Linked DNA regions of Homo sapiens: region 1 is linked to region 2. The links come from fine-mapping of genetic effects on plasma protein levels. A gene starts in region 2. The other region holds a variant in brackets. All regions are shown on one strand. Distances are between the middles of the regions.

Region 1 (2,898 bases), 61 kb after region 2:
CCACTCCTGGCCCTCCCTGTGGCTTTGATGTGTGTTTCCCTAATGACTAGGGATGTTGGGCATCTTTTCATGTGTTTATCGACTGTTCTATGTGTTGTTTTTAATGGTTTGTAAACTGTTTTATCCTGTGGGTGTGTCCTAATGTATCCCACCACTCCTCTGATACTGGACACTTAGATTGTTTTCTCTGCTTCCATTTTTGTTTTCTGTTTTCTGCTATTACAGATGGTGCAGTGGTAAACATTTATTTATTAAGGATAAATATAGGCTGGGCACGGTGGCTCACGCCTGTAATCCCAGCACTTTGGGAGGCCGAGGCGGGTCTATCATGAGGTCAGGAGTTCGAGACCAGCCTGGCCAAGATGGTGAAACCCTGTCTCTACTAAAAAATGCAAAAAGAAATTAGCCAGGCATGGTGGCGGGCGCCTGTAATCCCAGCTACTTGGGAGGCTGAGGCAGGAGAATCGCTTGAACCCAAGAGGTGGAGGTTGCAGTGAGCCGAGATTATGCCACTGCACTGCAGCCCAGGTGACAGAGCAAGACTCCAACTCAAAAAAAAGCAAACAAAAAAAAACCAAAAAACCCAAAGGGTGCCTCAGAGGTTATGCACATTTTTAGGACTTCTGACATAGAATGCCAGCTTGCCATCTATCGACCTTCCTGCCAGCTCTCTGTGCCTATCCTCCGTGGCCAGACCTTAACCCCTATCCGCTGTGGCTGGATCTTAACCCATCTTGCCTCCTTGTGTCTTCCAGATGCCTGGGAACCACTCACCTCCTTCTGTGCCATGAGGCCACCTCAGCCCTGACACCAACCCCGTGCGTCCACCCAGCCTTCTTCCGCATCCACACACAGCCGGCTGCCCTTGACCCGGGAGGCCCCGGCTCTCCTCTCCCCTGTCCTGCACCCATCCCCCGCCTGAAGCCACCGGCTCCAATTGCCAGCAACCTCTGCTTGTCCGGAAAACGACAACACGAAATGGAAAAGGCTACAGCCCTCTGCATAAACCAAGGACTTGGCTGCCTCGCAGGCAGCCTCCGTTCCTCCCGCTCTCTTGCGCGTGTGCTTTTGTTTTTTATTTTGAACAGACGTTTTAAAAGAAAAAAAAACAACTACCTTCTGTCCTAGAAGACACAGACTGACAGATGGGGTGAAGGCCTGGGGACCTCAGAGAACTCTGCCTTGCCCTCGTCCCTCGTCCTTCGGCAGCCGGAGAGGCTGTGGGTGGGCCGAGGGTGTCTAGGGGTTCTGCCT[G/A]GTCAACGTTATTTGTCGTCCCATCTTTTGGCAGCAAAACCACCTGCGTGGCTAGGATGATTAATTATGAGGATGATGATTTTTTTTGTGATAACAGTATTGTGCTTTTTGTGGGGAAAGTGAGGTTTTTTTTTATATACATATATAATTGATATCTTTAATTTATTGGTTGTTAACTGTTGCTGCTGCCTGGTGTGTCCTCAGCTCCCAGGGCTGCGGGCCCACCGTTTACATGTGCACGCCCTGACCCACCTGCCCACGCCGACTTGGGAGGATGGTGGCCTGCAGCGGCCAAGAAGCCAAAAAAAATTTTTTTTTTTTCAGATACTGTGCTTGATTTTTGGAGAGGGGAGAGGTGGAAATTCCTAAATGGCTAATGCACTGTTCCCTCCAGCCCGAATGCCTCCTGCCAAACCCCTTTTCCCTGCTGCCTCTGTCCCCGCATCCTTGTTCTCCCCTGGGTCCGTAACATTTTTTCCGAGGATGAACAGGGGACATCTTTAGGTTTCTCAACTCTTGCTTTGGTGTTTGCCGCAGCATGGAAAACAGGGCGCCTAAGGCTGGGAGCTGGAAGAAGGGGCATTGGGTACCCAGGCAGAGTCAGGAGAGGTGGTCTTTGAAGTAAGTTAGCAGAAATCAAGGGGACCCCCGCCTCCTTGGGCTGGGGAGGGGATTTCAAGATAGTTCATGACTCTCTCCCGCTCTGCCTTCCCTCCTTCCTATCTGCTTTTTCCAGTAAACTGCATGGTGTCCTTCCCTGGCCTTCTCTTGGCTCAAAGGCTGGGAGGGAGGGAAGGAGAGAAGAGTTCCAGGCAATCCCATCAATATAGTCCCTACACCTGGGGCTGCGGCCCACATGTCTTCACGGAGGCTTCCAGCGGTGCCTGCCACTGAGGCAGGTGCGGCCCCAGGACCATCACCAGGAATGCGAGGCCACCCTGGACCAGAGGTAGGAGCCCAAGGTCCGGCCCTTGCTCTTTGATTGTGGGCAGCCTCCTGCCCTCTCTGGGTCTCAGTTGCCCCATCTGCAGAGCGAGGAGGCCCGGGCTGGTTGGTCTTGAAGGCCCTTTTCCATGCCGACATCATGTCACTCTAGGCCTGGGGTTCAGTTTCCTGTGGCTGGTGATGCTGTGGTTAAGTTTGCTTGACCCCAGCAGCCCGAGGGACTGTCTGAGTCACAGCACAGCCCCTATTGCGTGGCTGCTGGTGTGTGGGGTCAGTTCCAGCAGATGAATGTGTCATGTGGCACACCTTGTCCCTTCCCGCAGCATTTCCTGGTTCCCCCCAGACCCTTGAGCGCTCTTTGGGACCCAGAAGGAGTCCTTGCACAGGGAAGGCTTGAGGTGAGAAGCCGCTTCCCAGACTGTCAGGGCCAGGCCTGGGTCTAGAATTCTTGCTGCTGCTTTGCAGAGTCAACAGCCCATCAGCCCATGTTTTAGAGGGGACACTTTGGTCCTCGGTTCCCACCCTCAGCAAGCAGGCCTCCAGCCCGAGGAAGGCCTCTGCCGTAGTGACGTTGCCGTGTGGGGCTGCGTGGCTGTTCCCCTTGGCTGGAGCATTCAGCCAACCCCAGCGTCCCCCCTGAGGCGTTCATTGGCAGCCCCCTAGGACTGCACGCTGGCCCCACGGTAACCCCCCCTCCCC
Region 2 (2,898 bases):
TGGTTCCCGTGCTGGCTCTCCCTCCTCCCAGGCAGGATGCTCAGCACAGTCTGGTCAACTGTTAGCCCCCCACTGTGGGCCCCTCACTGCTGTCCACTCTGAGTTGGTCCTCAAGGTTGGGACATTCTGCTCCCAGGTCTACACCAGATCCCTCCAACTGGGCCCACCTCCTCTGCAGAATGAGCTCCCCAAGCCAGCAAGTCCATCCCCATCTGAAGACTTCCTGGGGCCTGGGGCTCAGCCTGGGCAGGGGCTTCAGGGGAAAGCAGGAGTGGATGGAGTATGCTTAGAGGCAGGAGAGATATTTGGGAGCTGGAAGGCACTCGGCCCTGCTCAGGGTTCCTCTGAGCTTTCTGGACCCTCCGAGGTTAGAACACTGTGGAAAGAAGGGAGAAAGAGACCCCACTCCTGCCTCATCCCTGCTAGCCCCGGGGAGGGCTGCCTCATCCTCCCCGCTCTCTCCCCTACCCCAGGGCCCCAGCACCGGGTGTCATTCTTTCCTCCGTCCTTCGCTCATTCACAGAGATTTGCTGGGTAACACCTCAGGCGGCCTTCTGGGTTATGGAGATGCCTCTGCCCTCTGGGAGGGTGTTCTCCCATGGAAGAGACAAACAGGATGCAGAAAACATAGGTGACGTTTGTGATGGATGTGAAGGAGAGAAACTAAAGCCGAAAAGGATAGGAGAGTTCTCAAGATATGATGATATGTTGGATGAGGTGGACCGGGAAGGCCATGCTGGACCTACCACCTGAACCACACCCCCCTACGCGAATCCACTGGCCTCTGTCCATTCAGGTGGAGCCTGTCACCCCAGCCTCGGCTCAGAGAAACAGCTCTGAGCAGCTCTGACCTGTCACTCCAGCAGCTCTGACCCATCACTCTCTGCTGAAGTCCTTTCATGGGCGCTGGTGGGCAGGGGCCCAGCTCCTCGGCGAGGGGCCTCTCCTGGCCTGCCCCGTGGGCCCTGCCCTTCTCCCAGGTCCCCTGTGCCTGCAGCCGTGCGCAAGCCCGCAAGCCGGGGAACTCTCCCTCGGGCATGCAGGCCTCCCCGCCTCTCCAGGTTGCCTGGGCCAGAACGCTTCTCCATCCACCTCCCTTCCTGACCCTGGGTTTGGAGGTCTCCTGCCCCCAGGCCGAGAGTAGGTGCTCCCACCGCTACCTGCCGCATCCCGCACAGCCCCCTGCCCGCCCTGCGAGGGCTGGGGCACTCCTGTCCCGTGGGCCGCCGTGTCCCCGGCACCCCATGAATCCGTGTCGAATGAATGAATGTCTCCGGGCCGGGACCTGGCCTCATTCACATCCGATCTTCCGGGCCCTCCCCGCCGCGGCGGGGGCCGGAGCGCCAGGGCTGGATTCGGGGAGGGGGTGGCGGGGGTGGCTGCCCCGCCCTGGGGCCGCGTTGAGCCGAGGGGACGCCCCTCCGGCTGGCTGGCGAGGCCGGGGTCCAGCTGGCGGAGGCCGCGGCCAGGCGGGTGCGGGGCGGGAGGTGGCGCCGGGCGCTGAGTGGCGGCTCCGGGTCCACCCCTGGCGCGCGGGTGCGGGCGGGAGGGGGGAGGCGGGAGGCGGGGAGCGCAGGGGCGGCGGCAGGCGGGAGGCAGCAGCGAGCATGTGCCGCGGAGCCCAGTAACCAGGGACGACCGCGGCCACACCGCGCCGGCGCCGGCGCCCAGCCCAGGCAGCCCCGCGCCGCGGCGCCCGGACCGCCCGGGCCTGCCCAGCGGCCGCCCCACGCCCCGGGCGCCCCGGCGCCGACAGCCGCGCAGCGCAGCGCGGGCGCCGCAGACAAAGGCGCGGCCCCGGCCCGGCCCGCCCGGCCCAGCCGCTCCTGCTGGGCGCCCCAACCGGGTCCGGCCCGGGGGGGCGGGGGCCGCGGCCGCCGAGGATGGGGAAATCCAACAGCAAGTTGAAGCCCGAAGTTGTGGAGGAGCTGACCAGGAAGACCTACTGTGAGTGCTCCCAGCCCCCAGCCCGCGCCCCGCGGTCACCCCCACACCCACCGCCCCCGCCCCCGCCCCCCGGACCCGCGCGCTACCCGCTCCGCGCTGCCGCCTCCGCTCCGTCCTCCCCGCCCGGCCTCCAATGTGGACCCCTCGGAGGTTCCCGGGCCGCGCCCCTGCCCCCCGCCCGGCCCCATTGTTCTGGCACCCCCAGCCCGGGGAGTGCGCGCCGGTCGGCGTGCGCGGCGCCACCCCTAGGTCCGGAGGGGCAGCCCCAGCCCCCTGGCGGCCCCCTCTCCGCAGAGCTGTCCCAACGGGCAGGGGCTGTTGCCAGGGTGGGGCGGTGGTCCCGGGAGGGGGCGCCCGGCTGCGCGGAGCCGACTGGCACGAGCGCGCGGGGCTGGTGATTCATGCATCACGATGCCGCCGCCGCCGCTGCTGCGAGATTGGCCTGTCGCCCCCTCCCTGGCCCCGTTCGTGTGGGGGGGGGGGTGGCGAGACTTGGCACAGCGCTCGTCGTGCGGTGACGGCGGTGAAGGGTCCCCGGCACCCTGTGGGTTGCAGCACTTACAGGCTGGATTCTCCCTGGCCCCATCTCTGTCTGCCACACCGGGAAGTGGGTTTCTACAGCCCGGGTCATCTGGGCCGCGTGTGATCATTAGCTGTCGCGGGCTGCCCGGAGGAGGATGGCCTGTCCTTTCTGGGCGTCTCCAGATCAGCCTCAGTGTGTCTCCCTCCACTTGCCTAACTTCACAACTCTGCAGTCCCCTTGCAGTCCTAGTTTCTCCATACCAGGCTTCCCCCTTCCCTGCAGCCTCTCCGGAGGTGCCCTGGCATACCAGGGGTTAATGGTAATGGGTCCAGACCACCCAGGGGATTGCCAGAGGGAAGGCTTCAGCATCGGGGTCTGGAAGGACCTCTGCCTGGGTGTTTGACTTGGAAGGGGACAGTGGTTCTGGG

What was found. PIP is the posterior inclusion probability: the model's chance that the variant is causal. Protein levels are from antibody-based Olink assays in UK Biobank. Linkage for the fine-mapping came from a reference panel and not from the study's own genotypes, which makes the PIPs less certain.
Region 1: its variant is fine-mapped to the plasma level of the NCS1 protein (UK Biobank, PIP above 0.99).

Annotation. Positions count from the first base shown.
Region 1 is chr9:130,232,235-130,235,132 of GRCh38, forward strand. NCS1 (neuronal calcium sensor 1) reads left to right here. Exons shown (of 8, transcript NM_014286.4): 8 at 756-2,898. Among named protein-coding and RNA genes, the nearest start is that of MIR12126, 7.7 kb to the right of the region's middle. The variant G/A (reference allele first, on the strand shown) is at 1,255.
Region 2 is chr9:130,170,781-130,173,678 of GRCh38, forward strand. It overlaps NCS1 (neuronal calcium sensor 1), which reads left to right and starts at 1,624. Exons shown (of 8, transcript NM_014286.4): 1 at 1,624-1,947. The coding sequence starts at 1,884. RefSeq lists an enhancer at 738-1,526 and a silencer at 1,601-1,690.